7 linked regions of the Homo sapiens genome follow. The protein of the gene in region 1 purifies or fractionates together with the protein of each later gene. This does not show direct contact. Each region holds a gene or a part of one and is shown on either strand. Other genes may lie near its edges. The genes, in order: DNAJB2, TRO, CTSA, LACC1, RFWD3, RNF19B and RLIM.

What was found.
Region 2: the proteins of DNAJB2 (region 1) and TRO purify together in Homo sapiens (affinity purification with mass spectrometry; 3 studies listed by BioGRID and IntAct, with this or other methods). This does not show direct contact.
Region 3: the proteins of DNAJB2 (region 1) and CTSA purify together in Homo sapiens (affinity purification with mass spectrometry; 4 studies listed by BioGRID and IntAct, with this or other methods). This does not show direct contact.
Region 4: the proteins of DNAJB2 (region 1) and LACC1 purify together in Homo sapiens (affinity purification with mass spectrometry; 3 studies listed by BioGRID and IntAct, with this or other methods). This does not show direct contact.
Region 5: the proteins of DNAJB2 (region 1) and RFWD3 purify together in Homo sapiens (affinity purification with mass spectrometry; 3 studies listed by BioGRID and IntAct, with this or other methods). This does not show direct contact.
Region 6: the proteins of DNAJB2 (region 1) and RNF19B purify together in Homo sapiens (affinity purification with mass spectrometry; 3 studies listed by BioGRID and IntAct, with this or other methods). This does not show direct contact.
Region 7: the proteins of DNAJB2 (region 1) and RLIM purify together in Homo sapiens (co-immunoprecipitation; 3 studies listed by BioGRID and IntAct, with this or other methods). This does not show direct contact.

What each region holds. Positions count from the first base shown.
Region 1 is NC_000002.12:219,282,275-219,285,801, reverse strand, and holds part of DNAJB2 (dnaJ homolog subfamily B member 2), read right to left. Parts: intron 2,966-3,527; coding exon 2,873-2,965; intron 2,670-2,872; coding exon 2,567-2,669; intron 2,384-2,566; coding exon 2,313-2,383; intron 1,171-2,312; coding exon 815-1,170; 3' UTR 1-814. UniProt on the Homo sapiens protein: Functions as a co-chaperone, regulating the substrate binding and activating the ATPase activity of chaperones of the HSP70/heat shock protein 70 family. In parallel, also contributes to the ubiquitin-dependent proteasomal degradation of misfolded proteins.
Region 2 is NC_000023.11:54,923,595-54,928,163, reverse strand, and holds part of TRO (trophinin), read right to left. Parts: coding exon 4,396-4,569; intron 3,714-4,395; coding exon 3,609-3,713; intron 3,495-3,608; coding exon 3,431-3,494; intron 3,176-3,430; coding exon 3,096-3,175; intron 2,573-3,095; coding exon 2,481-2,572; intron 1,755-2,480; coding exon 1,675-1,754; intron 1,582-1,674; coding exon 1,539-1,581; intron 1,122-1,538; coding exon 1,059-1,121; intron 860-1,058; exon of another isoform or gene 729-859; intron 498-728; coding exon 383-497; intron 1-382. UniProt on the Homo sapiens protein: Could be involved with bystin and tastin in a cell adhesion molecule complex that mediates an initial attachment of the blastocyst to uterine epithelial cells at the time of the embryo implantation. Directly responsible for homophilic cell adhesion.
Region 3 is NC_000020.11:45,896,057-45,899,618, reverse strand, and holds the end of CTSA (lysosomal protective protein isoform b preproprotein), read right to left. Parts: intron 2,655-3,562; coding exon 2,579-2,654; intron 1,903-2,578; coding exon 1,813-1,902; intron 1,615-1,812; coding exon 1,510-1,614; intron 1,253-1,509; coding exon 1,169-1,252; 3' UTR 799-1,168; downstream 1-798. Other genes in the region: PLTP (phospholipid transfer protein isoform a precursor), read left to right, coding at 81-157, 556-678. UniProt on the Homo sapiens protein: Protective protein appears to be essential for both the activity of beta-galactosidase and neuraminidase, it associates with these enzymes and exerts a protective function necessary for their stability and activity.
Region 4 is NC_000013.11:43,882,635-43,887,203, reverse strand, and holds part of LACC1 (purine nucleoside phosphorylase LACC1), read right to left. Parts: intron 3,434-4,569; coding exon 3,268-3,433; intron 2,286-3,267; coding exon of another isoform or gene 2,236-2,285; exon of another isoform or gene 414-2,235; intron 1-413. UniProt on the Homo sapiens protein: Purine nucleoside enzyme that catalyzes the phosphorolysis of adenosine, guanosine and inosine nucleosides, yielding D-ribose 1-phosphate and the respective free bases, adenine, guanine and hypoxanthine.
Region 5 is NC_000016.10:74,660,003-74,664,571, forward strand, and holds part of RFWD3 (E3 ubiquitin-protein ligase RFWD3), read right to left. Parts: intron 4,499-4,569; exon of another isoform or gene 1,954-4,498; intron 1,452-1,953; exon of another isoform or gene 1,450-1,451; 5' UTR 1,448-1,449; coding exon 930-1,447; intron 1-929. UniProt on the Homo sapiens protein: E3 ubiquitin-protein ligase required for the repair of DNA interstrand cross-links (ICL) in response to DNA damage. Plays a key role in RPA-mediated DNA damage signaling and repair.
Region 6 is NC_000001.11:32,940,484-32,945,052, reverse strand, and holds part of RNF19B (E3 ubiquitin-protein ligase RNF19B), read left to right. Parts: intron 1-893; coding exon 894-1,034; intron 1,035-2,593; coding exon 2,594-2,801; intron 2,802-4,569.
Region 7 is NC_000023.11:74,607,337-74,611,905, forward strand, and holds part of RLIM (E3 ubiquitin-protein ligase RLIM), read right to left. Parts: intron 1-4,569. UniProt on the Homo sapiens protein: E3 ubiquitin-protein ligase.

The sequences.
Region 1 (3,527 bases):
CCTCTTCAGGGTGAGCCAGCCTCACCTCTGCCTAGTCCTGAGGGTGAGGGCAGGCTGAGGCAACGAGAGGGAGGAGGAGTGGGCTCCAGTTCTGAATCTGGACAGCTGAGAGGCTCCCGCCCCACCCGGCTAGCCTCCCCAGAAGATCTCACAGCCCTACCGGCCCCAGCATCTTCCTCGCCACATTGAGGCCTTCTCGGGGAAGGAAGGAAGAAGGGAGTCCTAGCCAGACGGCAGTGAAAGCAAGCGATGCGGCCCGCAGGGAGTTGCAGAGAGAATGGGAGGGAGGAGAAGCAACACCAGAAGAGAAGCAACAGAGACGGTCAGAGCGCAACATGGCACAGAAACCAGGGTTGGGGGTCTGCAGCTGGTCCAGGAGAGCAGGAGGCTCCACTCTGCCTGCACTGCTCTCCAGTGGAGCTGCCGGCTCCGGCTCAGACAACCCTAGGCCAAGTCCTCCTTCCTTGACACCATCAGCAACACAGGTGGCAGAGTACCAGGGCACAAAAGGCCCAGCCCAAACCACTAATGCCCCTTGGAGCTCCCCATCCAATAAATGCAACCTGGCTCCTCGGGCCCCTCCACTGCCCTGACACCCCCCACCCTGGGCTTCACCAGGGACCTATCAGCCCTGGGCTGAGCACAGCAAATCCCAAGTCCACACTGGGGTGTGGGGGGCCTGGGAGGGAAACTTGTGGAGGGAGCTTGGAGTTGGAAAGCAGTTCCTACAACTCAGGATACTCCCCTCTTCTCTTCCCACAGTGAGTCAGACCCCCCAGTCAAGATCTGGATCAGATCAGGTTGGGCCCGGTGTTCAGAGGATGAGGCAGCGAGAGGCCTTCTCCTCTGGGGATGGACTGCGTTTGGTTGCTTCACCCCTCGCACCCTCCTGGGTCCCCCCCAAGCCTGGATCTTGGTGCTGGGCCTTGGGCCGCCCCTGCCGTCGGTGCTGTGCCTCCCGCCCACCTGCGGGTTTCTTCCCAGCTGCCTCCATCTCTGACAGGCTGTAGGCCATGGCCAGCTGCAGGTCCTCATCCTCAGAGAGGTCGCTGTCCAAGGGGCATGAGGCAGGGGTCTGCTGGACCTGAGTGCCCCCAGACCTGGAAGTGACTGACGGCTGCTGCTCGCGACGGCTCAGCTCCAAGCCCAGTGCCAGGTCATCTGGGACACCTGCAAGAGTCACAGCCACCATGAGGCCCCAACCTGAGCCAGGGGTATTACTGCCAGGCTGCCTCACACAGTAACAACCCTGACCACTTAGAGTCTCTTATTTGGAATTGGCACACATGCATTTTGGCACCTAGGCTTGTGATTTTGAGCACAAGGAAGTATTCAGCTCTACCAGGTAGAAGCTCCTACCCTTAGGCAAGTCACTCAACATCCCTACCCCTCCCTTTCCTCATCTAGAAAGTGGGAATGATGGCCGGGCACAGTGGCTCATGCCTGTAATCCCAACACTTTGGGAGGCCGAGGTAGAAGGATCACTTGAGCCTAGAAGTTCGAGACTAGCCTAGGCAACATAGTGAGACCCCATCTCTACAAAATAGTTTAAAAATTAGCTGGGCATGGTAGCACACGCCTGTAGTCCCAGCTACACAGGGGGCTGAAGTGGGAGGACTGCTTGAGCCGAGGAGGTCGAGGCTGTAGTGAGCCATAATCGTGCTGGGCTGAGCACGACCCTGTTTCAAAAAAAGAAAAAAAAGAAAATGGGAATGATGATAGTGCCTTCATACTCAAATTGTTCCAATGATTAAATATGTCAGCCCATGTAAAGGGCTTGGTACGCAGTGCTGGGAGTCAGCAGGCGTGAAAGGTTAGCTGTGGTGACGGCCCTGCACAGCATGGTGTTGCAGGGGCAGTTCTGCTCCGGGAATCGTGCGTCCTGAGTTTGACTCCTGGCTCTACTCCTTACTTGGAAGGAAAGAGTCTTGGGCCTGGGCTACTTGGAAGTTAGGGTCATTTAACTATGCTGCAGCTCAGGCTCCCCAAATTAAAACTAAGTGGATACCATCTGCCCTGTGTACTCCCCCAGATGCTTGAAGAATACAGAGGATATCGTATATCTGGAAGTGCTTTAAAAATAGTAAAGTGCTTTGCAAATGTAAGGCACCCCACTCACAGTGACGGCGATGGCTTCGTGAGACTCCTTCACCCCCTTCCCGACATTGCCATCTCTGATCCTACCAGTCTGGCCTGTTGCCACTCCCTCCCAAGCCCTAAGTGAGTTCAGAGAGCAGCAGTTTGGGGAGGAGGCTGCTGAGGTTGGGGCTGGGGCTTCCTGCCAGGGGCTGGGTAGGGGAGCTGCTCCTCACCATTGATTGTGACTGACTTCAGCTGCCCATCCTCCTCCACTTCCACCCGCTCCTGCCCGTTCTCCATGATTCTGTGGGAGACAGCACAGTTCAGGCAACGAGCAGTGACAGAATCCTGCAGGCGCTGGTCCCAGTTCTGGCCACCGCAGTAGAGAGCGCAGACTGGGCCCTGCCCTCAAGGAGCCAACTTTCTATTTGAACACAGCTCCCCAGCAGACCTCTCACCCCTCTATGGCCCCAGAAGGAGCTCTCACCTGCGTGTGGTGATGCGGCGTCCTTGGACAAAGGTGGTAGATGTAGAAACAGAGCGAAAAGCACCAGCCCCAGGACTGAAGGAGAAAGATGAGGAGGAGAAATCTGGCATCGGGACAAGGGAGGAGGAGGAGAGGTGGTTAGAAGAAGACTGCGCTGCCTGTTGTGGTCACCGAGGCTCCAGGCCGCCTCGCAGGGCTGCTGGAGGCAGGGCTCCCAACACAGGAGACAGGCTTGGAAAAGCAACAAGCTCAAGCCAGGGGTTCCAGGAATCGGAGCTTGCAAACGTGGGAAGGGGCAGAACTTACCGGAGTGCCCAGGGAAGGAGGAAGAGAAGGTAAAGAAGGGGCCTGAGTGTCGGGAACCCCGGTTCTGAAGCTCTGAGAAGGGGCCCAGGTCATCTGCAACAAGTAAACAGATTAGCAGTCATCTGGTAATGACATTTCCCCTCAAAAGTGTGTGAGCCCAAGTCTGGAAGTATAAACCACTAAGCAACTGGGTAGGGTTTTTCTTTTCCGCTTTTTAGTTGGGCTTATTTATAAATTCCTTTTTAATGTTGAATTCGAAAACACTCACTGGTTAATTCTGTCCACAATAAAGAATAAAGGAAGGAAGGAGGGGGAAGAGGGATGGAGGACAGATGGCTCTTTCAGTACAGGCAAATCATCATGACGCGATGACAGGCAGACACAGCTAGGAGTCCAGCTCTGCCATGTGTTATGTGACTCTGGGCTATTAACTGTGCCTCAGTTTTCTCATCTGCAAATGGGGAGAAAATTGCCCACCTGTCAGGATTCACTAGAGACTTACGAAATGTAAAATATTTGGCACATATCTATCATTAAAAAATACCACTATCTGTTTTATAGGTAATAATAACAATATTGTCACAAGATGCTTTGAGTCTTGCTTTCATGGCTGTTACTATAGAAGTCTAACAATGTATTATTGTTGTAATTTAAT
Region 2 (4,569 bases), on another chromosome or scaffold:
CACACACAAAGCCATGTGAGGACACAGCAAGAAGGCAGCCATCTGCAAGCCAGGAAGAGAGCCTTCAACAGGAACTGACCCTCGTGGACCCTGACCTAGGATTCTCGCCCTCAAGAACTATGAGAAAATAAATTTGTTTTTTAATCCACCCAGTCTATGGTATTTTGTTATGGCAGCCCATGCTGATTAATACAAAGTATGAAGAATGAATGAGATGATGTAAACTATATATCTAGCAGCACCCTGGGACATAAAGGAGGCTCCACATGTTTATATATGAGCTGCAGGCTGCTCTGTACCTGCCCATCCCTGTGCATTGCCTGCCCCAGCCAAGGGTATCCCATTGCCTTAATATGCCAAGCTCGGGCAGCTCTCCTCTTACCCTGCATGCAAACTTGAGGACTTTCATCTTGCTAGTCTCGTGGTAGGAGCGCAAGCCCCAGAAGAACTCATATTCAGGTGGTCTGCTGTTAGGGACCCTCTTGTACTCCAGGTACCTTGGAAAAAGGAAATGAAACTTGTTTCTAACCAAGCAACCCTGCTGTCTAAGCACTAGACACCAGGTGGCAACCTCCTCCAAACAAATACAAACAGCCCCTGGAGAGGGATTTCTAAGACCCTCCAGCCCCAGACTCACTACCAAACACAGTTTATGGTCTTGGCCTCCAATACTGAGCCATTTCCCACTGGCCCTGTGCAAAGCAGTCCCTTGGGCTTCTCCAGGGGAGACATGTATAGGGCATGATGTCACAGGAAGGCCAAAGTATCATGCCACCTGTGAGGAGTAAGCCCAGATTCCTGTTGGGTGTGTTGTAAACAGAGGAGCCATTCTTAAGGCCCTCTGCTCTGAGCGCACCCCACTGCAAGGGCCTTGTGTTGAGTCTGGCCCAGTCCTGGAAAGGTCTGCCCATGGGAATTTTAGACAGTATCAGTTCTAGGACACAGGATGCCCATCCCTCTAAAGCTAGTATAAGAAAGGCACTGACTAAGCACTTTCTGAACCAGATCAGTATACCCAGAACACTTCAGGGCCAGACAAAGCCCCAAACACCACTTACTTCTGCTTCACAAACTCGTCTGTGATGAGCTTCCTCACTTCCCCAAAGAGTGAATGCCTCACCCTGACAATGGGAAAAATAACCCATGAACACAGATCAGAACTGCCCAGATGAGGGCAGAGGCATTTCCCAACATGGAAGAGACCTCTCTAGCACATGGGGCAGTCTCAATGAAGTGAAGAAAGTAATGAGCACATGGCCACTAGAAGCAAGCAGTTAAGACCAGATGCCTCTTTGTCAGGGATCCCTGAAGGTCTATCTAACATCTCAGCTTAGAACAGACAGAGGACATTAAGGAGAGAGACAGCAGAGAGTTCAGGACCATTTGCCCGTCATCCACCCAGGTCAGAACCCTGGGCCCTCTACCCAGTCCAGCACCCCACCCGCTCCACCAGACCACCAGACTGATGCAATCCTAGGACCATCCTCTCTTGCCAAAGGACAACACGGACAGCAAGCGCTGAGAGAGCCCAGTCATACCCAGGGCGCAGCCCCAACTTGCGCAGCACCTCCCAGATGACAGCTGTGAGGGGAGGCAAGAGGAGACAGGGACAGAAATTGAACACATGGAATCCAGACCATGGCCGCCCATTCAGCTGCATGCCCAGCCACTCACCCTCACTGGCCTTGTTGCCATTCATAAAAATGACACTCAGAATCACCATGAGGAGACCCAGCTTGGGTGTGTCCTTGGTCCTAAGGGAATAACAGGACAGAAAGAAGGTTTATGTTTCAACAGGACAGAAAGAAGGTTTATGTTTCAGCAGCCATCCGCAAAAGATACACCAGCCAGCTCACCAGGCTAACCTCTCCCAGATTCCTCAGATACAGAATTCTGCCCAGTCTCTGCTTCCAGCTCTATGCCACCCTGGGCAAGGCACTTAGACCTTGCAAGCCTTGGTCTATTATTCAGTAAAATGGGAAAATCATATTCTCCCTTCCTCAGGTTGCCAAGAAGATGGAAGAATGGCTGTCAACCTGGTACAACACAAGCACTCAGTCAATGTGAGTCCCTTCTTTCTCTCCCAGAACCTTCAGCCCCACTGACACTCTTGCGCTTCATGCATACTGATCCAGCCACACCAGGAAGCCCTCCTTGAGAACCACTCTGTCAAAGCCAGGCCAGGCACTCCATCGGAAGAGGCAAGCAATGACAGGCCTGCTTTCCTGGGAAGCTTCTACAGAGACAGCAAACCTGACAGCAGGAATGTCCCACCCTAGGCTCCTATACCCTTCAGTCAATCATAATCAGGTGCCACTACTGTGAGCAGGGCTCCAACTATGTGCAGGTGCTGAGACAGGGCTTTTGAGACCCTGTTTTTCCTGACTCTCTAAGAGGATGGGGGAAGTAGGACAAAGAAGGGGTAGCAGCACAGATAAAAGCAGAAGCTTCCTTCCCACTCCAGCCCTTTCCCAGCTTACGTTCCCAGTATGCCTGCAGAGGATTCCTGAGTGCTGATGAGAATATACAAGCTACTTTGCTTATCAATTTCTTTCAGATTGACTCGAAACATCTGCCAAGTAAAAGAATAGCCTGTGAGATCACAAAATTCAGCTTAGGTATCAGTGAACTTTCCGGGCATCCTAAAACTCCCAGTGTACTTAGGGGGTCTGCATGTGTAAGAAGTCAGTGAGATAATGCACATAAAGCACATAGCCAAGTGCCTGGCACCCAGTAAACACACAGCAAATGTACTATTGTCATCAACATCATCTTTGTGATGAGCAGGAATCTAGGGAGACAGAAAATGGGGATACAAGGGAGAGGTGAGATCTGAAATACATGCAGAATATGTCCAACTATGAATAGAAGCTGAGACTAATTTGAGTGGCTTCTGTCCTAGCCATGTTTTCATCACTGACATGCTGTGTGACCCATGGCAAATCTACACCTCTCCCTAGGCCACTGTCTGCCCATTCACACAGTAATGGGGCTGGATTAGCATGTTTCTGTGATTCTCTCCAAAAGGGACATGTATGTCTTTGCTCGATTCAAAGCTTCCCCATTGCGCCCATCCGCCAGCACTGCCCCTTCACCTTCTCCAGAGTGTAGCTTGCTCGTTCAATGATTTCTGGGAAATATTCATCATATTCTTGGATGACATCCCTCAGCATGTCTGTAGAAAAGGAGAGGTGAGAGTAGCTGAGCTTAGCAGGGGCCACAGAGCTGCAGCCCTTTTGCCAGTCCTGTTGGGTCAGTGCAATCAGAGACCTGAAGTGAGTTAATGGGAGATGCCAGCCATGGCAGAGTGCAAGGAGGGCAGGTGTGGAGATATGACAGAACAAAGAGGCCATAAAGTGTTACTCCCAGACTATGGGAGGAGAGGGGAGTGGAGAGGAGAGCTCAAGGAGGAGGGTTGGTAGGACACTACCTGAGCGTTTGATGGGGATCTTTGTCTGGTCCTTAACCAACAGGTATTTCACCAACTTATTAGCCTGGGAGGAGAGGAATAGATGGAGAGATCTTAACATGCTTGCAGAAAACTTGGAAGGAGGCAGAGAAGAGGGCAAGTGAAGAAGAGAAGAGACTGGACAGCATTGGATTCTTACCCTTTCTTGTAAAATGGCCACATCTCGCGGTGGTGCAGGCCTCCGGCCCCATGGGATCCGCCTGTAATTACTGCCACTTCTCTCATCCCCATTCAGATGCTTGGACTTCATCATCAGAAAGAAGGAAGGTCCAGAGTCACCAGGTGAAAGAGATGGCTCTGTCTCCTCACCTTGCCTGCTCCAGACAGAAAGTCCCTCTAACCCCCTCCCTCAGCCTTGCTGTAGTGGAGCCTGATCCTGACCTTGCCATTGGCCACCCTGAGTCCTGAGCTTATCTTTCACTGTCTTCCAGGAAGGAGTTTCGTTCCTCTGCCAGGCCAGGAACAACTCAAGATAAGAGCCTAAGGGTCTTTCTCTTCCTCTGGCTACCACCAATTATGCTGGCTGGTACCTCTTGGACAAGTCACTTCATTTCTCTGAGACTCAGTTTTCTTAAGTGTAAAACTGGGACCTATGATCCCTTGTTGGTAAGAGTTACTTTCAAGACATTCAGACATACCCTGTGTAACTGTACCCAACACAAAGCCTGGCACGTGGTAACTACTATTTAAATACAAGTAGTATTACATACAGGTTGTAGCTGAGTGTATGGATGTCTTATTTCCTCACCAATCTGTGAACTGCTAGGGAGCAGAAACTATATCACCTTCTTCTCAGCATCTTCCACAGCCTATCTGAACACAGGGACTAGCTCAAAGTAAAACTTTTATAGAAGAAATGAACAAACTAGAAGGGTAGAAATGGAAAAGAAGCACAAAGTTAAGGATGGCAATGTCAGAGATCTCACCTTTCGGTTTCTTTTGCCCCGGGTCCTGGTTGTGGGCTCCAGGCTCAACTGAGCCAGATAGTCATCTGCCAGGGCCTGGACAGCAGCAGCAACCTGAGTCTCAAGGGCACTTACGTTGGTCTGAGCAGAGGCTATCTTGGCCTGGGCCCCTTGGTCAGCATTTGGAGTCTGGCT
Region 3 (3,562 bases), on another chromosome or scaffold:
AGGCTGGGGTGTGAGGATGGAGGAAGAAAGGAGGGGTGAACTGGGCGGGCCCAGACTGAGCGGGGTGCTCCCACCCACAGAGCGGACCTGGCGTGGGGTGCAGATCCCACTACCTGAGGGCATCAACTTTGTGCATGAGGTGGTGACGAACCATGCGGTGAGTGGGGGCAGGATGGGGAAGGAGGGAGGGCCTTCCCCTCTCTCTATAGCTCCCCAGTGCCCTCCATTACCTGACCCCAGCTCCCCCATTACCAGTCGCCCCTCCCATTTTAATCTTAGACTCCTAAAAGCCGTTGCACACACTGTGACTTCTTGGAGCACTCTTCTCCCATCCCAATACCTACTAATTGTTCAGGTCTTAGCTCAGAGGTCACCTCCTCCAAGAAGCCCTCCTTGACACCCATAGTCTACACTCCTACAGCCTCATTTTAACACCTTGACATGGAATTATCCATTAGATTGAGTTCCTGAAAGACAAACACTCTGTCTCTTGATCTCTAAACTCTGGCCTCAATAACTGAATGAATAAATGAGGCTCCCCTCTCCCCAACACAGGGATTCCTCACCATCGGGGCTGATCTCCACTTTGCCAAAGGGCTGCGAGAGGTGATTGAGAAGAACCGGCCTGCTGATGTCAGGGCGTCCACTGCCCCCACACCGTCCACAGCAGCTGTCTGAGCCCTCAATCCCCAAGCTGGCAGCTGTCATTCAGGACCCCAACCCCTCTCAGCCCCTCTTTTCCCACATTCATAGCCTGTAGTGCCCCCTCTAACCCCCAGTGCCACAGAGAAGACGGGATTTGAAGCTGTACCCAATTTAATTCCATAATCAATCTATCAATTACAGTCCGTCCACCACCTCCCTGTGGGCTGTCCTGAGCTCTGTTGGGTTCCTGGGATGGAATCAGTGCATCATAAAGGGCATTCTTTAAGCAGAGAAGGGGCCAGGCCACCCCATTCAGGAACTGCTGCGGGAATAAAGTGCTAACTTGCCCCCAGGCTGTCTATGGGAGACCCTGGGCCCAGTCTGGGATGTACAGGGCTCTGGGAAGGGGGCAGTCCTGGCGGCAGAACCCGGCCTGCAGGGGCACTTTGCTTAGAAGAGGACTCTCCTAGCGGGAGAGGCTGGGAGGGGCTGCATCAGGCCGTGGAGCTGGTTGCTGTGGTCATCAGTATGGCTGCTTGTTCAGGAAGCGGGAGAACATGGTGAAGGCAGCGAGGGGCTTGTCGGTGGGAACCATGTGGCCGGCGCCCTGAGGAGCAATGTTCGTGAGCTCCTGACCCCACCATTCCCTCCTCCCCATATAACTGCTCACTCGGGGGCAATTCCTTCATCCCAAACCCTTTATTCTTCCCAGAACCCTCCCCACCCCTCTCCAAAAAAACTTGCCCATACAGGGGCCAGATGGTGACCCATGACCCAGCCTAAAAGGCAGCCAGAGGGAAAGGACGGGTGGGTCCTGCTCCTTTGCCTCCGGCCCAGTTATCTCTCAGCAGGCCCAGTCCCTACCTTGATCGTGAGAAAGGCGATGTGGGAGAACTCCTTCACGAAGCCGGCAATCTGCTCCCCGCTGTCCCCGTACTTCACTAACCAGGGCCGGCGCTGCACCTCCATCTGCCCCACCAGGAAAGACATCAGCCTACAGCAGCTGCATCCTTGCTCACAGCTACCAGCAAGACCTTAGGGCTGGGAATTCCTCCACACTTGCCCTCTGTGGGCCAGAGCCAGGCAGCCAGCTGGCCACTCCCAGGCATACCCGCTCCCAATCCTCCACAGCAGCCCCTATCCCAGGGCCAGGAATCTCTACCTTACCTTCTGGTTGAGGGAATCCACAAACCACTCATCCCCCATGAAATTGCAGGCCATGTCTACATCTCCATTATATAATAGGATCTGGTATTTCTAAAGCAGGATGGGGTAAAAATGAGGGGTGTGGAACAAGCCCAGTCCCCAGCCCTTCCCTAGTTCAAGGCCTACCCCTCAGGAAATTCAAGGGGCCAAGCTAGATAACACGAACCAGGGAATTTTCATGTTTTCTAACGACTTACTGCATGTCCAGTATTCTACTAAATGTTTTATCTGTGAAGGTAGATATCATTATTATCCCCATTTTACAGATGGAGAACCTGAGGCTCATATTTAAGAAATTTGCCCAAGATTATGTGGCTAGTACAGGGACTTGCACCCAGGCCATGTGACTCCAGAGCCCATGCTATTAACCACTGTGCTGGACAGAACCTAGTCCTAACTTGGCCCTGCCAGTGCTTCCTATATCACCTTGTGCAAGGTCTCCTCCCACCCTGGACCTCTGCTGGCCCATTTTTGGCATGAATGAAGCTCTTCTCACCCTTAAGACTCCGTGGCTGATGCAGACCCCTAGGCCTCCTATAGCAGGACAGCATGGGTGGGGACAAACCCAGGTTCAAATTCTGACCCCACCAATCACAGGACCCTGGGCTTCGCCTTTCGGAGTTTCAGCTTCCCTTGTCCTGACAGGAAGTCTCAAGGGCCCCCAGCTTGCTGTGCTACTCTGGGGTCCTAAGGCTGCTGGTGATCCAGCTGTGCTCTCCCCACTCACCTGTGAGCTAAGCAGCTTCAGATACTGGGAGTTCATGCTTCGGTAGAGACGGCGGTACTGTAAGTTTACCAGAAAGCTGCCGGGAACATACGAGCAGGCCCCAGGAAGACCAGGTCGGGGCGAAAAGTAGTCAACAGATCAGACCTTCTCTCCTATCTCCAAGCTCCAACCCAGAAGGCAGACAGCTGGGTTCCACTCCCCTTTTTGGGGGGGGGCCACCTCTCTAGGACTGACTTGGATGTTGGGCTGGATGGGCTGGGATTCAGACAGCCTCAACTCACCACCATTTAGAAAGGTACAGGGATGCTGGGCGTGGTGGCTCACGCCTGTAATCCTAGCACTTTGGGAGACCGAGGTGAGTGGATCACGAGGTCAGGAGTTCGAGACCAGCCTGACCAACATGGTGAAACCCCGTCTCTACTAAAAAAAAAAATACAAAAATTAGCCAGGCGTGGTGGTGCGTGCCTGTAGTCCCAGCTACTCAGAAGGCTGAGGCAGGAGAATCACTTGAACCCGGGAGGCGGAGGTTGCAGTGAGCCAAGATCGCAGCACTGCACTCCAGCCTGAGTGACAGCAAGACTCCATCTCAAAAAAAAAAAGAAAAAGAAATGTACAAGGGACGCATTTTGGTTGTTACGAGGACTGGGATGCATCTGGCATTTAGTGTCTAGGGGCCAGCAGGTGTGGGAGTCACAACATACAACAGGGTAGAGTGTGAGCACTGACCAATCAAAATGGACCTGAGCAGCCCTGCTGGGCCCAGTGTTACCCTTTTACTTGGGGTTGTGGGGGGGGGTGGCCACAGGAGACTGGACATGGAAGTTAACAGTTTGTTATTGTTGTTTGAGATGGAGTTTCACTTTTGTTGCCCAGGCTGGAGTGCAGTAGCATGATCTCAGCTCACTGCAACCTCTGCCTCCTGGGTTCAAGCGATTCTCCTCCCTCAGCCTCCTGAATAGCTGGGATTACAGGTGCCCAACAGCA
Region 4 (4,569 bases), on another chromosome or scaffold:
TGAAGACATCAAGTTTCTATCTGTAAGTGGGTAGGATATCAATAATTAAAACAGGAAACCTAACTGGCAGAGAAGACTTTAGGAAAAAAATGTTGAGTTTTTGACATAATGATTTTCAGGCACCTAGGAAGATGCAGACAGTGATGTTCAAAGGGAAGCAACTAGATATAGGCATTTTGAGTTAAAGAGAGAAACTGTCAGGGCTTTTCTACAGATGAGAGTAGCTCTCTTCCTCAGTGAGCCTCCTTAGTTATCCTCTCACTTGTAGTTCATCCACCTCCTTTCTATTTGATTTTTCTATGCCTATCTATATATACATATCTAGTTAAAAGATCTTTATTAAATTAGTCCCATAGAAGAATTTTATTCTTTTTGATATCTGATAAAAGTAGTATACAATGTAGCTAATTATATTATATTTTAAAGTTAATTTATTTTTATTCTTCCAACTTTTTAGGTTCGGGGTACATATATGCAGGTTTGTTACATGGGTAAATTGCATGTCACTGGGGTTTCGTGTACAAACGATTTCATCACCCAAGTAGTGGACATAGTACCGAACAGACAGTTCTTCAGTCGTCACCCTCCTCCCACCCACCACCCTTAAGTAAGCCCCCATGTCCATTGTCCCTTTTTTTGTGTCCATGTGTACTCAATGTGTAGCTCCCACTTAAAGGATACATATGGTATCTGATTTTCTGTTCCTGCATTAATTCATTTAGGATGGCTTCCAGCTGCATCTATGTTGCTGTAAGGATATGATTTCATTCTTTTTTATGGCTTTATAGTATTCCATTATGTATATGTACCATATTTTCTTTATCCAGTCCACCACTGATGGGCATCTAAGTTGATTCCATGTCTTCATTATTGTGAAAAGTGCTGTGATGAACATACGTGTGCATGTGTCTTTATGGCAGAATAATTTATATTCCTTTGGGTATATACCCAGTAATGGGATTGCTGGGTTGAATGGTAGTTCTAATTTTAAGTTCTTTGAGAAATATACAAACTGCTTTCCACAGTGGCTGAACTAATTTACATTCCCACTAGCAGTGTGTAAGCATTTCCTTTTCTCCACAATCTCACCAACATCTGTTGTTTTTTGACTTTTTTTATAACAGCCATTCTGACTGGTATGAAATGGTATCTCATTGTAGTTGTGATTTGCATTTCTCTAATGATTAGTAATATCAAGCGTTTTTTCATATGCTTGTTGACCACGTGTAAGTCTTCTTTTGAGAAGCGTTTGTTCATGTCCTTTGCCCATTTTTTAATGGGATTGATTGTTATTTGTTTGTTGATTTAAGTTCCTTATAGAGTCTCGGTGTTAGACCTTTTCAGCTGCATAGTTTGCAAATATTTTCTCCAATTCTGTAGGTTTTCTGTTTACTCTGTTGATAGTTTCTTTTGCTGTGCAGAAGCTCCTTAGTTTAATTGGGTCCCACTTGACTATTTTTGTTTTTGTTTGCTCTTGAAGTCTTCACCATGAAATCTTTGCCAAGGCCTATGCCTATGTCCAGAATGGCATTTCCTAGGTTTCCTCCTAGGGTTTTAATAGTTTTAGGCTATATGTTTAAGTCTTTAACCCATGTTGAGTTAGTTTTTGTATATGGTGAAAGGAAGGGATCTAGTATCAATTTCCTACATATGGCTAGCCAGTTATGCCAGCACCATTTATGGAACAGGGATTCCTTTCCTCATTGCTTGTTATTGTCGACTTTGTCAAAGATCAGATGGTTGTAGGTGTGTGGCTTTATTTCTAGGTTCTCTATCCTGTTCTATTGGCCTATGTGTCAGTTTTGGTACCAGTACCATGCTGTTTTGGTAACTGTAACTTTGGAGTACAGCTTGAAGGGAGGCAATATGACTCCTCCAGCTTTATTCTTTTTGCTTAGGATAGCTTTGGCTATTTGGGCTCTTTTTTGGTTCCATGTGAATTTTAAAATAGTTTTTTCTAAATCTGTGAAAAATGACATTGGTAGTTTGATAGGAGTAGCATTGAATCTATAAATTGCTTTGGGCAGTGTGGCCATTTTAACAATATTGATTCTTCCTATCCATGAGCATGGAATGTTTTTCCATTTGTTTATATTATCTCTGCTTTCTTTCAGCAGTGTTTTGTACTTCTCATTGTAGAGACCTTTAATCTCCTTGGTTAAGGTAACTGTATTCCTAGGTATTTTATTCTTTCAAAATTAACTTATTAATGACTTGAAATTCACATTTATAACTTCATTTTGACTGCTTGATCTTGGATATGTTTAAACTAAATGTTTTCGAACCTAAGAAGTAAAAAAATAATATCCTCTTTTTATATCCAGGAGCCAAGACTCAAATTTTAAATAACTTTTTGACAATGTCATGTAGTAAACCTGACTTCTACTCATTCAATCCCATTATTTCAGCTAGGTCAAAATAAAAATATGCTACTTTCTTTTTTACCTATGAGCTAAAAAGCAAAGTAGCCATAGATTTACAAGTAGAAGGAAATTTTAAAGATCATCCCTCATTTCACACAAAATCACAGCTATGGGGTAATCTAAAATACTATTTTAAAATACCTTCAGAAAACAAAATTCCATATCCTTAACACAATATACCTTCTAAAAATACTTCTTTGCTCTCAGAGAATAGTTACAGTTAAATACATTAAGTGATGTAAACTAAAAACAGTTTTCAAAACATCTTGCTTTTTCCTACCTCCCTAGCTTTACACATGCAGCTCCATCTGGGTGAACACTTCTCTGCAACATGCCTAACATTCCTATTTCCTATGGCCTGGATTTCAAGGATTCTCAACCAGAGGCAGTACCACTCCCCTAGGGAGTGTTTTGAAAAGCTTGGAGGGTTTCGTTGTTGTTTGATTGGTTGGTTGGTTGGTCTTGGTTATTACAGTAACTAGAGGTGCTACTGTCATTAAGGATTTCAGGGGCTAAAGACACTTAATCTGCAATGTGGGATTATCCTGCCCAAAATGTTAATAGCACCCTTGCTAAGGAACACTGTTACCCAGCCAAAACCAACAAATTCCTCAGGAATCAACCTAGGTGCCACCTCCTTTGGGAATTCTACTATAATTCATATAATTTGATGCAGATACTCCTCTTAGCTGTCCCTATAATAAAACTATGCCGCCTCTCCCATCATTACACTTACCACAGTGTAATGTAATTAACTGTTTGCCATGTCCATCAGAAAGAAATTACAATTTTTCCTGCACAACAAAATGAGTAAAATTCTAAATGTTTAATTAAGTATACTTACCAGCGTGAGCAACCCCACATGCTTTTTTGACTGGATCTGCAAAAACTATCGGTATACAGTCTGCACCAAGAGCTGCTATTGTGACTCCTCTCTGATTTGTGGTTATTCCATCATAAGAGTCAGGCTCCTTTCTTCCCATAATCCAGATGTCATTGGAATGATGAGTCTAATACCAAAAATGTGCAACAAAAATGTTTTGGAAATAGTATTTCTTATACCATAAGCTTTCTCGAAGGTACTCATTGTAGTATAAAATTATATAACCAGTTTAAGATTACTAGCATTCATTAAATATATCACTTTTATATATGGGAAAACACAAAATTTACTTATAATTTAACTATTTAAGATTTTAGATTATAATCTCTGATAGTTTATGCAAAGAAAAGCAGAGTTTAACATTATAAAATTCAATATAGTGAATAATGAACATCTTTCCATAAAGATAGGTATATCATTTCTTATAGCACTTTCTACAAAATGAAAATTTTTCTTGTAAAGGAAAGTTAATTAACAAATCAATGATACTTTTACTTTTCCAAGACTCAAGTAAAGCTAGAATTCTGTAAGGAACAAGACATTATCTCATCAACTATGACCCTAGTTCCTCCTGGAGTAGATTTATAAAATAATGGCCTTTCTCTACCACCATTCAGTTCCCTTTCTTCTAAATCAAAAAGAGCAGTGGTAGTATACTCTCTGAGAATTAACTGTACTTTTAGAATTGAGGACTCCAGATGAAATATACAGTAGGCTCTTGAATAATGTCATTTTATTCCACATCATTTCATTATAATGTTAATGAAAAAAATTGATTACCCACCCGGTCACTGACTGTGTGAGGTTTGCACCTTCTCCTCACGTCCACATGGGTTTTCTCTGGGTACTCCAGCTTCCTCCCACATCCCAAAGAAGTGCATGTTAGATGAATTGGGGTGTCTACATGGTCCCAGCATGAGTACGTGTGTGTGTGTGTAAGGGCACCCTGCAATGGAATGGTGTCCTGTCGAGGGTGGGTTGTGGCCTTGCATCCTGATCTGCCAGAATAGACTCCAGCTACCTAAAGCCCTGAACCGAAATAATTTGGTAGTTATCTTATTTGTCTTTCTTACTGTTTTGTAAATATATGTCTAGCTCACATTTATTTCAATGTTTAATACTAGGAATGTGTTGGTCTTTATTTAGAAGTTTGGTGATGTTTTTGTGACAAGAAATATGCCTTAGAAACTTTATTCTTATTTATATCAATTAGCCTATGGTAAAATTGGTTTTATTATGTCGTTTCACTTAAAGTCACAATTT
Region 5 (4,569 bases), on another chromosome or scaffold:
TGTGATTGCACCACTGCACTCCAGCCTGGGGAGCACAGTGAGACCCTGTCTCAAAAATAACAATAATAAAAACAAGAAGAAAGAGAAAACAAAGGGATTTCGTCGAAGCTTCCTCCATCTGCCTATGTAGAAAACAGGGCAGATCCAGGCTCCAATATCAGTGCTAACTCCTCTATTCTATAGTTATGAGACCCTGAACAAAGCCCTCTCTGAGCGGAGATCGCACCACTGCGCTCCAGCCTGGGCGACAGAGTGAGACTCCATCTCAAAACAAAACAAAACCAAAAACAGACAGGTTTAATTAGTTAGGTGTGGTGGCACGCGCCTGTAATGCCAGGTACTGGGGAAGCTGAGGCAGGAGAATCGCTTGAATCTGGGAGATGGAGGTTGCAGTGAGCAAAGATTGTGCCACGGGAATCCAGCCTGGACGACAGAGTGAGACGCTGTCTCAAAAACAAAAACAAAAAACCAAAAAACGGACAGGGTATAGGCAATTGTTATTCTTCATAATAACCCTGTCAAGACTTGACAGCTAAGCCCTTCAAGAGGCAAGTTCAAACCAAGACTATGAAAGAAAATTAATTAATTGTGCCCCCAGGTGGAATGCCAGTGAATAATGAATTTGGGTGAGTAGAGACTTGCAAGTGAAGAAAGAATTTTTGGTGTACAAGACACAATCTGAACAACAGCCAATCTCTACAGAGATTGCCAACAAACTACCACCTAGTTTTCAAGGCACAACAGTTTAACTTATCCCTTCATTACTTTGTGAAGTAAGGCAAGCACTTTTATTTCCACCTATGAGGAACTGGGGGTCAGAAGTTACCTGACTTGCCAAAAGTCACACTGTCAGTCCTTGAATGGCAGAGCCTCAGTTTCATAATTTCTAGTACAGCAATGATCACAGACTTATCCATATATTTATTTACCTGGCACTGTCTGTCCTCTGAGACCCTCCGGCTCTTGCCCTCCGTGAAGCAGATACCCTCCTTCTTGTTCTCATTGGCCCTACACTGTGGTTTGAAGATGAAGGTCTCAGGAATTCCAGCATGCCATGAAGTCTCTGCAGTCCGCTGATGAAGTTGGTCATTGAATGCAACGAAGATGCTGGGATGGTGTGATTACCATCAGATCCCTGCCTATGTTGTTCTGAAGTTCTTGGATTGATGTTCTCCACAGTGTCTTCTCCCAAGACCTCCACTTCTGTCAGGTCAACAGACAGTTGCGGAGCAGGCTGGAGCAGGGGTGGTGTCGCTTGGCTGCTGATCACCTCAGCAGGAGCTGGCTGGAGGATGGATGGTACCCCCTGGCTGCTGACCACATCAGCAGGAACAGGCTGGAGGAGGGCTGGTCCCCCTTGGCTGCTGGCCATGCCAGCAGGAGCTGGCTGTTGTTCGGCATGATTTAACTGCACCTGAACATCATATTCCATTGCTTCATGAGCCATCACTAGAGAAACAGTATTTGTAAAAAGTATTAATAAAATAGATAAAACATGCTATGTAGGTGACAGAATCATATTTAATCTTTCTGATTTTATGTTTAATATCATTCTTAGCAAGACTGAGAAGCTTCAAGAGAAGATTTTAACTACTTAAGTCAGAAGTGTTTGGTAATGGACTTTCCTCTCTATAACAAGCATTTATAACCAGTTTTCCGGTTTGCCCTTAGAAAACATGAAGTCCTGTGATCATAGTAGTATCTTCCAAAATAGAAAGATCTATAAACCAAGGAGATTAAACTACTGGGTCTAAAAGTAATCTCTCAGACACTTTGCAGTTCTCTCAAGCTGAATATGGACATTCACCAAAATCAAATGCATATAATGCAGTATCTAATTTTAGCAGGCAATATTAATCTTTCACAGCATCAACAGTTACAAGGGATAAATAGAGAAAGGACATTTTTTACACTTGCAAAATTAACTGTTACTAACTCAAAATGGAAACTTACCTAATGTTTCCAAAAAGGCTGAGCAAACTTTATCCTATCCCTTTCATTATTTTTGTTTTCCATCTCTAATTCCATCATGTTAGCGTATTCAACAAATATTTATTAAGCACCTATGTTCTTTTCATGTTTCCTATCTTTAATTCCATTGTATCAGTTTGAAAACTACCACCTAGTTTTTAAACTAAAAAAAAAAATTTTTTTTTGTTATATAGATGAAGGCTTCCTATGTTGCCCAAACTGGTCTTGAATGCCTGGCCTTACCTCCTCATGCATCAGGACAACAGGACTGAGCCACTGTGCCTCCCTACCACCTAGTTTTTAAAGTACATCAGTATAACTTATCCCCTTAATTACTTTGTGAAGTAAGGCACGTGCTTTTATTTTCATCTGACTTATGAGGAAATGGGGGTTCAACTAATAGTTATTAAGCACCTGTTATGCAGACAAGACACCCTAGAGGCAAAAACAGATAAGACCCCATGTATCAGAGTTTAGATTCTAGCAAGTAAGATGTCAATAAACAAATACATGAAAAAAATTATAGATTATGATGTTTGGGGTTGAGGAGACAAAGAGGACCAACTAAGACACAATTGTGAGGGAAGTACTCTTTTAAAGAGTGAAAATTGGGCTGAGGCATGAAGGATTAAAAGCAGCTGGCTATGCAAAGAGCCAAGAAGAGTCTCAGAAGGAAATCAGTGCATAGGTCCCTGATGAGCATGGGTTTCACTGATGAACAGGACACCATTATTAAAGGGCCTATGGGCCTTGGTAAGGAGTTTCTTCTATGTTAGGAATGCACTGTAGGGGTGCAAGAGCATAAGCTAGGTGACCAGTGTAGAGGCTATTGTGGGAGTCCAGACCAGAGGTCAGAGAGACCTAGGCAAGAGTGGTAGCAGTGGAGATGAAAACAAACAGACAGCTTTAAGAATCTTCAGAATGGTCATGCTTCTTTTTTTTTTTTTTTGAGATGGAGTCTCGCTCTGTTGCCCAGGCTGGAGTGCAGTGGCGCGATCTCGGCTCACTGCAAGCTCCGCCTCCCGGGTTCACGCCATTCTCCTGCCTCAGCCTCCCGAGTAGCTGGGATTACAGGTGCCTGCCACCACGCCTGGCTAATTTTTTGTATTTTTAGTACAGCCGGGGTTTCACTGTGTTAGCCAGGATGGTCTCGATCCCCTGACCTGGTGATCTGCCAGCCTCAGCCTCCCAAAGTGCTCGGATTATAGGCATGAGCCACCGCGCCCGGCCAATACTCATGTTTCTTAAAATCATCAAAGCAGATTAAACCACCTGAGGAACAGAATGACAGAAGAGGGCTGAAGACTAAAGTCAGAGACACTACTGTTAAAAGTACAACAGAGTAAAAGAAGCCAGTTAAGGAAGATTATAAAGTAGGAGGAAACATGGGAATGTGGTGTCTTGGAAAAACAATGTTTCAAGGAAGGAACAATTGAGTGTCAAGTGCTACTGGGGGGAAGAACGGCCGCTAGATTTGGCAACATGAGGATGACAGGTGACCTAAAAAAGCAGTTTCCCTGAAGTGGTGGGGTCAGAGGCCAGACTGGTGCAGGCTGAATAAATGGAAGGAATTCTAATAAACATAGTGGACGAAGTACATATATGTATCTTTCTCTCTCCACTCCAGTCATTCCTAAAACCCACGAACATGACCCCCACAACCTGAGACATTTTTTTAAGAAAGGATAAATTAACCAGGACGACACAAATGCAAACAGGGTATGATATGCAAACCAGTTTTTTAAGGCCATAAAGGAGAAACTGATGATTGATGACTGCTTAGCAGAGCCAAAAGATAAAACTCAAAGCCTGCAAAGGGCACAGTGGTTGGGGTGAGGTGTGTTATTGAGAAGCAAGCTGATTCCCACTAAAGGGACTGTAAAAACCAGGTACCACAAAAGGCAATATTGAAAGATGGCGCTAAAAGAGAAGGGCTGGTTAAAAGCCAGTAAAGCAGTTAGCTTGACTCCTACTCAAACACCAGCCAGCTAAAACAAAACACAGAACAAAGCCCTTCTCCCCCTATGCACGAGAAAACTGGAGGTTTGAACCACACAGGCTTACACTCAGGATGGAGAGTGGCACAGTACTGAAAATAAGTGGGAAAGAAAGTCTGCAAACTGAACAATGTGAGATACTTCAAGTTTTAAACATTTTTTGTATAGATGGGGTTTCCCACGTTGCCTAGGCTGGTCTTCAACTCCTCGGCTCAAGCAACCCTTCTGCCTCAGCCTCCCAAAGTGCTGGGATTACAGGAGTGAGCTACTGCAGCTGCCTAACTAAAAGCTTTTAATGTTTCTAGGGTACAACGACAGTCTCCCAAGAATTGTGTGTCAGAACATAAGGCCCAAGCTACTTCTAGATGTACTCAAGAGACATTAAGCAACTCAGCCTTCAGGAAGACAAAGGGGAGAAATGGACTAAAAAGAGCAGAATCTAGGGGGCCGCACTGTCTACTCCCATATGGTTATTTAAATTAAATAAAAATCAAATTCGGCCAGGAGCTGTGGCCCACGCCTATAATCCCAGCACTTTGGGAGACTGAGGCAGGTAGCTGGAGACCAGGAGTTGGAGACCAGCCTGGGCAACACGGCAAAA
Region 6 (4,569 bases), on another chromosome or scaffold:
AATTTATTTAATCCTCACAATCCTTACAAAAGGAAGCACAATTTTAATAGAAAGGTGCAGTAATTGGCTGGGCGCAGTGGCTCACGCCTGTAATTCCAGTGTTTTGGGAGGCCGAGGCGGGCGGATCACGAGGTCAGGAGATCGAGACCATCCTGGCTAACACGGTGAAACCCCATCTCTACTAAAAATACAGAAAATCAGCCGGGTGTGGTAGCGGGTGCCTGTAGTCCCAGCTACTTGGGAGGCTGAGGCAGGAGAATGGCGTGAACCTGGGAGGCGGAGCTTGCAGTGAGCCGAGATCGTGCCACTGCACTCCAGCCTGGGCAACAGAGTGAGACTCCGTCTCAAAAAAAAAAAAGAAAGGTGCAGTAATTTTCCCAAGGTCACTTAGCTGGGACATGAATCAAGTTAATCTGCCTTCAGATCCTGTTCTCTTAACAGCTAAGCCATTCTACCTCACACAGCAGTAAGATTTTGGAATTAACATCCTGAGGAGATCCTAAACTCCAAGCAGTAGTCACTTATTTAATATTTGATTCTTGATTGGCTCTTGATTGGGTTAGCATTTCAGCAGTGATTAGAAGAGGGGAAAATGAAAGCAACATATATTTACTGTGCAAAACACAGTACATAGCATTCTCATTTGATTATTGACAACCCTGGGAAGATAGGTCCAAGGTTATACAGCTAGTAAATGGAGCCAAGAATCTAATCCAGACCTTTCTGATTTCTAGCCTGGTCATCATTCTGTTACACCAGGCCACCTTTTTGGGATAGCCACTTTCTGTCTTCCTTTCTTTATAAAGTGGTTTGTCCATGCCCAGACTGGGAAGAAGAATTCAGGGCACTTGCAACCTAATAGCCAGCTGACATGTTTCCTTCTCTTCCCCCAGGTATTGGTGTCCCCATTATGCTGGCATATGTTTATGGGGTTGTGCCCATTTCTCTTTGTCGTGGAGGCGGCTGTGGAGTTAGCACAGCCAACGGAAAAGGAGTGAAAATTGAATTTGATGAAGATGATGGTCCAATCACAGGTAAAAAGCAGGATGTTTATTTCCATTTGAATTTATGATATACAAGATAAAAATCAGTAAAATTCAGCGCATTTTACAGGGAGATTGTCATTGGATTACTTTGGATAATGAGCTTTGTAGGGGGTAAAGTATTTTTAGCTTTTCATTTCTTTGTTCCAAAGTTATTAGGTTAATTCCCCTGGTACTTGCCTCTGTGTGGCAGGTACAAACTAGTAGGAATCCAAGTAACTCCAAGTATGCTGGTAGTAGTAGTGATTATAATAACATCTTTATATCTGCACAGTACTTGATAATTTTCAGAGTATTTTACACAATTATCTCACTTGCTTTTTACAACAAACAGCTCTCTGACGAGGGAGGATGGAGCTGTTATCCCCATTTAAATGGGAATTTCTTTTTTTTTTTTTGAGACGGAGTCTCTGTCACCCAGGCTGGAGTACGATGTCGCGATCTCGGTTCACTGCAACCTCCGCCTCCCAGGTTCAAGTGATTCTCCTGCCTCAGCCTCCTGAGTAGCTGGGACTACAGCAACGTGCCACCACGCCTGGCTAATTTTTTTTTTTTAGTATAGACGGGGTTTGGTGTTTCACCGTGTTAGCCAGGAAGATCTCGATCTCCTCACCCCATGATCCGCCCACCTTGGCCTCCCAAAGTGCTGGGATTACAGGTGTGAGCCACCACATCTGGCCTAAATGGGAATTTCTTTAAGCTTTCATCTTACTATCTATTAAGAGCTTCACAGAGCTGAGACTAGGGCAAGTCTTCTGACTTTTACTTTAATGTGGTTTCTACTCGTAGTAAGTAACGTAGGGCACAAGTAACGTAGAAAACCCCAAAGGTTTTTCTAGCTTCCTTTTTTCTTTTCTTTTTTTTTTTTTGAGACGGAGTCTTGCTCTGTTGCCCAGGCTGGAGTGCAGTGGCATGGTCCTGGCTCACTGCAGGCTCCGGCTCCTGGGTTCGCGTCATTCTCCTGCCTCAGCCTCCCGAGTAGCTGGGACTACAGGCACCCGCCACCACGCCCGGCTAAATTTTTTGTATTTTTAGTAGAGATGGGGTTTCACCGTGTTAGCCAGGATGGTCTCCATCTCCTGACCTCGTGATCCGCCCGCCTCGGCCTCCCAAAGTGCTGGAAGTACAGGCGTGAGCCACCGCGCCCGGCCGGTTTTTCTAGCTTTCTACTAGAAGCTTCCTATTAAAATCAGCACATGACCCAAACATATTTTTTAAATCTTCACGTTTGGTTACATGGAAGCAACAGTGTAGTGGAAAGAATAGTGGCCTTGGAATCAGAGTTATAGTTTCATGTAACTACCATGGCCTTGGACAAGTCATTTAGTTTTAAATTTTAGTTTTCTCATCTAAAATTGAGGCTATTAATGCCTAGTTATTTGGAGGATTAAATATGAACATATGTTAAAACACCTGATATGTGGCGACTGCACACAGTACCTGTTCATTAAGTAAATACATTAGTTCTCTGAAAAGTCATTGCAGGAAAATGCCTACTGACTGTTTTGATGCTCTGCTGTCTTGAATTGGATGTTTGGTTCTATCCCCAGTGGCAGATGCCTGGAGAGCCCTCAAGAATCCCAGCATTGGGGAAAGCAGCATTGAAGGCCTGACTAGTGTATTGAGCACTAGTGGAAGCCCTACAGATGGACTTAGTGTTATGCAAGGTCCTTACAGCGAAACGGCCAGCTTTGCAGCCCTCTCAGGGGGCACGCTGAGTGGCGGCATTCTCTCCAGTGGCAAGGGAAAATATAGCAGGTAAACAAATAGATAATTTCTGACAGAAATGGTTAGAATTATAAGAAGTAACACATTGAGCCATTTCTCTGTGCCAGGCTTGTGCCACGTATCATCTTATTTTGATTTAATTGTCAATGGTTTTGTTTTGTTTTGTTTTTACTTTTTTATTTTTAAAGACAGAGTCTCACTCTGTGGCTCAGGCTGGAGTGCCATGGCGTGATCTCGGCTCACTGCAAGCTCCGCCTCCTGGGTTCAAGCGATTCTCCTGCCTCAGCCTACTGAGTAGCTGGGATTACAGGCACCCGCCACCACGCCCAGCTAATTTTTTGTATTTTTAGTAGAGATGGAGTTTCACCATGTTAGCTAGGATGGTCTCAATCTCCTGACCTCGTGATCCGCCCGCCTTGGCCTCCCAAACCGTTGGGATTACAGGCATGAGTCACTGCGACAGGCCTTTTTTTTTTTACTTTTACAAATAGGAAACAAGCTTAGAAAAAAAGGTTACGTCAGTTATGCAAAGTTCATTGTTCTTTCCATTGCACCATAGCTGCCTCTATATAAAGAATAATCCTGACTTGAGATTCCCCCTTGACTGCCTGAGGCTGCCTGCTTCAGGAAGGGAGAGTAGGCATTTTTATAGAATTCGTAAAATGCTCTCCGTTAGGCTTGTCATTGGCTTTCAGTAGCATTTATGCTGTATCATGGCTTATTTATTTTATTTTATTTTTTTGAGACGGAGTCTTGCTCTGTCGCCCAGGCTGGAGTGCAATGGTGCAATCTTGGCTCGCTGCAGCCTCCACCTCCTGGGTTCTAGTGATTGTCCTGCCTCAGCCTCCCAAGAGGCTGGGACTACAGGCGTGCACCACCATGCCTGGCTAATTTTTGTATTTTCAGTAGAGACAGGGTTTCATGTTGGCCAGGCTGGTCTCAAGCTCCTGACCTTGTGATCCACCCGCCTCAGCCTCCCAAAGTGCTGGGATTACAAGCATGAACCACCACACCCAGCCCATCATGGTTTATTGATAGTGGGCTTTGGGGATTTTTTTTTGTTTTTTTTCTCACTGTGTCATCCAGGCTGGAATGCAGTGGCACAATCATGGCTCACTGCAGCCTCAACTTCCTGGACTCAGGCAATCCTACCACCTCAGCCTCCTGAGTAGCTAGGACTACAAGTGCACACACCACACCCAGCTAACATTTTAAATTTTTTGTAGAGATGGGGTCTTGCTCGGTTACCCAGGCTGGTCTTAAACTCCTGGCCTGAAGCCATCCTCCCAACTTGGCTCCCAACGTGCTAGGATTATAGGCATGAACCATTGCCCCCAGCTGGTTTAGTGATACTGCAATCCTTATTACCTTTCTATTTCCATTTGCTAGATAAGGAAAATCAATTCTATGTACTTGTGTTGAAAATATGTAAAGCTTTGTAACTAAAAAGATTGTGACTTGCTTGGTCATTTCACTAGTTAGGCAGACCAGAGTGTATATTTTCAGAGGAGCATAACATGTTGCCTGAGAAGCAGTTGAATGCAACGGAGAAGAAAGGCCTAGGGAGGGGTAAAGGTAGAACAAAGCAGGATAGGAAGGTAGAGGAGATGGTTGCCTTCAGCTATCCAAAGGACCTTCAACTGTGAAAAGGATTAGACTTCTATGCCTCATACCAAAAGGTAGATTAAGATGACTTGGCAGAAGCTAAAGGGAAACTAATTTTGGTTCAGTATAGAGAATATAGGGAAAAGCAACATGAAAGCCCAAAGAGGAAAAAGGCTACTTTAGTAGATACTGA
Region 7 (4,569 bases), on another chromosome or scaffold:
ATGGGTATGAACACAAAAATGTGTCACACTGACAAGAGAAGGGCAATCCATTTTGTTTGCAACAGAGCTTCATCAAGAATCTCATAAAGGAGGCTGAGTACAGTGGCTCATGCCTGTAATCCCAACACTTCGGGAGGCCGACGCGGGCGGATCACCTGAGGTCAGGAGTTCAAGAGCAGTCTGGCCAACATGGTGAAACCCTGTCTCTACAAAAATACAAAAATTTGCCAGGCATGATGGCAGGTGCCTGTAATCCCAGCTACTCAGGAGGCTGAGGTGGGAGAATTGCTTGAACCTGGGAGGTGGAGGTTGCAGTGAGCAGAGATCGTGCCATTGCACTCCAGCCTGGGTGACAGAGCGAGACTCCGTCTCAAAACAAACAAACAAAAAACCACACACCAAAAACACACACACACAAAAAAAACAAAAAAGAACTTCATAAAGGAGTCCTTTAAGAACTAGTGACATGTGATCTGTGTCAATGAAGAAAATGTTAAATACCATCACCAAAATGAAAAATACTTTATTCAGTTTTTTAAAAGTTAAATCACAAAGAACTGCTGAATTTAAGGCCAGAAAACAAAAAGTACCATCATATCATTACGTATGTAGGCACCAAAAGTGTTGGGGATTCTTCATATATAGAATGTTTAATTAAAATGTTATGGTATTTGTAACAGAAAAATATTTGCTAACAACCAGGTATCTTTTTTTATTCTACACATGGGTAGCAGGGTGAAACTCAGCTCTGTGAAAGGAAAAAAGAGATACTGAAATCCAGTCTTGGTTGTAACTTGGTTATGTGGATTTGGCCAATTCATTTAACCTCTTGTGCCAGAGAAGTCTCCATCAATATTAGAGTATTGGATTAAACCATCTGCAAGGTACTTTCCAGTTCTATGAATCTGTAACTGTAAATAAGATATAACCTACACCACATTACGATATTAAGAAATATTAAGTTTAGGAAACAGCACAAATAACTAGGACATAAGCTTATAAGCTCTGCTTTTCTCACTACCATTTCACTCAATGTACTTCTATCTCCACTCACGCAGTTATCTTTTTGAAAAGAAATATAAAGCATTCCTAAAAAAAAAAAAAAAAAAGAACAGGCAGGGTTAATGTCTCACTGACTTTCCTTATTGCATGATACCTCTCACCAACTAAAAAATTTGTTGATAATTTCCAAGAGTGGCCTATCAGAAAATGCTACCAAGGTATCCCCCACTGCTCATGCTACCATAACAATAAGAGATTATAAAATATCTGAATGGCAGTTAGCTTAGCCTCCACTTACATTCTTCTATCTTTACCAGTTGAAAAGGACAGCAGAGAAAAACTAAAAGGACTCAGGAATGTTCCTCATGTACGCACCGACTTGCAGCTCAAACAACTTTTACTAAAACGCTCTAAAACAGTTAAAACTGAAAGAGTGTTAAGAACTTCAGTAAATCAAAGGACTGAAGACCATGCCAAATGCGGTTGATCTACAGGATCAAGTTAGTTAAAAAAGGAAACCATTATGACATTTCATCTCAGTCAAATACTTTAATCTAGACAGTGAATTTAATCTTCAATTACCCGTTTTATGTTCTTTTATTATCAAGCTATGCCACTAAATTATAATTTGGTCTTATCCATAAACTCGTTTTGACTTGCTTCTCTCATTATTCCTAAGAAGTCAAAAAGAAAATGACTCAAAAACCCAAGGAGTGCATGTGTTTAAGTTACTAAGGTAAAAATCACTGATAACTGACAATGTTGGTGTTCATCAGTAACTAAGGCACTATTTTAAGGACCTAAGATTTTTCCATCAAAAATCAGGTTTTTAAAGATTGAAGCCAATTTTTAAAATTAAAATCACTTAGCCGGGTGCGGTGGCTCACGCCTGTAATCCCAGCACTTTGGGAGGCCGAGACGGGCAGATCACAAGGTCAAGAGATCAAGACCATCCTGGCTAACACAGTGAAACCCCGTCTCTACTAAAAATAGAAAAAAATTAGCCAGGCGTAGTGGTGGGCGCCTGTAGTCCCAGCTACTCGGGAGGCTGAAGCAGGAGAATGGCGTGAACCCGGGAGGCAGAGCTTGCAGTGAGCCGAGATCGCGCCACTGCACTCCAGCCTGGGCGACAGAGCGAGACTCCGTTTCAAAAAAAAAAAAAAAAAAAAAAAAAAAAAATTAAAATCACTTAACTAAAAAAGAAAGTATTATCTATACCAATCAGTTATTTGAGGAAGTAATTTTGTATTTAAGACCAACCATGCTGACAATTGTCCTTCCTGAACTAGTATACCTACATAAAAATAACATGAAGAGGGTGACAATATATCTTTGGTTTGTCCAGAAGAGTAAGGGTTTACACTTGTACTGAAGTAATCAGTAATATGGCTCTCCCTTTCACTCTCAAAAGTGTCCCAGTTTAGATAATTCATATGGTCTCCTTAGTTATAATCAGCACTAAAGGGATCATTGGTCAATAAAAAACAAAAGTTGTAGTTAACACTTTTCCTCCTATAGTCAAGGGGAGATCAGAAGGGACCTTTTGTCATTCCAGAAAAAAATTTTAAACATCAAACACAAATACTTCCTTTCTCCCAGGAAGTAACATGTTCATCATCATGGAAACGCCATTAGACTCTCAAATGTTATAAAAGCAAACCAACCTGTAGTTGCAAAATTATTGCAAGAAATCCACCAATCTATGTAATGCACCAAGTGCTCTCTGCCTACAGATTATTTGTCTCACAGATATGTAGGTGCTACTGTGACTAATGAAATTAAACTCTTGGATTGGTGGCCAGGCGCGGTGGCTCAGGCCTGTAATCCCTGTACTTTGGGAGGCCAAGGCGGGCGGATCACCTGAGGTCAGGGGTTCAAGACCAGCTTGGCCAACATGGTGAAACTCCATCTCTAGTAAAAATACAAAAGTTAGCCAGGCGTGGTGGCACGTGCCTGTAATCCCAGCTACTCGGGAGGCTGAGGCAGGAGAACCGCTTGAACCCAGGAGGCGGAGGTTGCAGTGAGCCAAGATCGTGCCACCGCACTCCAGCCTGGGCGACAGAGCAAAACTCGTCCTGCCCTCCTAACCAAAAAACAAACAAACAAACAAACAAACAAACAAAAAAAACCAAAAAAAAAAAACCCTTGTGTTGGAACATTAAAATATAAGAAAATCTAGAGCAAAAATACCAACTATATATGTCAGGAGAAAAACCACAAGTTCATAAATATATTCCCCCAATTGAGGTATATTTAAAAAATACCTCAATTGGCCAGTCGCGGTGGCTCACGTCTGTAATCCCAGCACTTTGGGAGGCCAAGGTGGGCAGATCACAAGGTCAGGAGTTCGAGACCAGCCTGGCCAATATGGTGAAACCCCATCTTTACTAAAAATACAAAAATTAGCCAGGCGTGGTGGAGAGCGCCTGTACTCCCAGCTACTTGGGAGGCTGAGGTAAGAGAATTGCTTGAAACCAGGAGGTGGAGGTTGCAGTGAGCCGAGAGTGCACCACTGCATTCCAGCCTGGGCGACAGAGTGAGACTCCGTCTCAAAAAAATAAAAAAATAAAAAATAAATAAATAAAAATACCTCAATTGATAAAAAGAGAAATGAATTGCTGGATTATCTGGGAAACTTTCATGTTTGAGGCTGAGAAAAAAAAATGAAAGAAAAATAGATACAGAAGTGTTATTACTTTCTTATATTGGACATCAGAACTTCAATTTATTATGTAAACTAGATACTTTCTGAAATCAATGGGCCATAGGTTTTAGAAATCTTTGTGTTAAAGAAAAACCTGTCCAGTTCTAGGCAGTGGCACAAAATTCTAGGCCCTCATTGGTTTGGGTTTGACAGAAGACTTTTTATTCTCTAATTTGTCATCCACTCTATGGTAAATGAAGAGAACAGGAGGCTGGCTGGTGATTTGCTCTATTTCTAATCCACCATGGCCATGGAAAAATTAATGTACATATAATATAATTCCATAAATGCAGATGCCTCATTTGACCTACTACTATATTAAGGCTCACTACATGTTCACTAACCTCAAAGATATCCAACCAGCCTAGTATTTCCAGATCATTTAATTATTAAGCTATTTCTTAAAATCATTTCTGATTTTAAATTAAGTTTATCAAATGATATACAAGGAGCTATCCATTTAACATCTATCAATGAGCCCATCCAATTACAGGGCCTGTGAAATAGAACAATAAATATGTGTAAACATGCATAATAGCTGAAACAGGAACGTAACAGACGAAAAGGGGGGATTGCTGGATAACCTTTAAGTATTAACAAAAGTTTCTGATGCAACATAACCTACAGACTTTTTACTACAACCTTTCATTTTCATTGCATTTCCTATCTAATTAGACAGCAATCAAACCCAGAAGTATAACGTCAGACAGGCCTGGGATAAAATGAGGGCTCCACCACTTAAAGCTATTTAACTGAGGACAAATTATACTTAACCTCTTTGGGTTTTTGGTTTCCTCTATAAAAGTTAACATTCTCATGAGGCTCTGTTGTGAGAATTATAAAATAATGCATATAAAGCACAT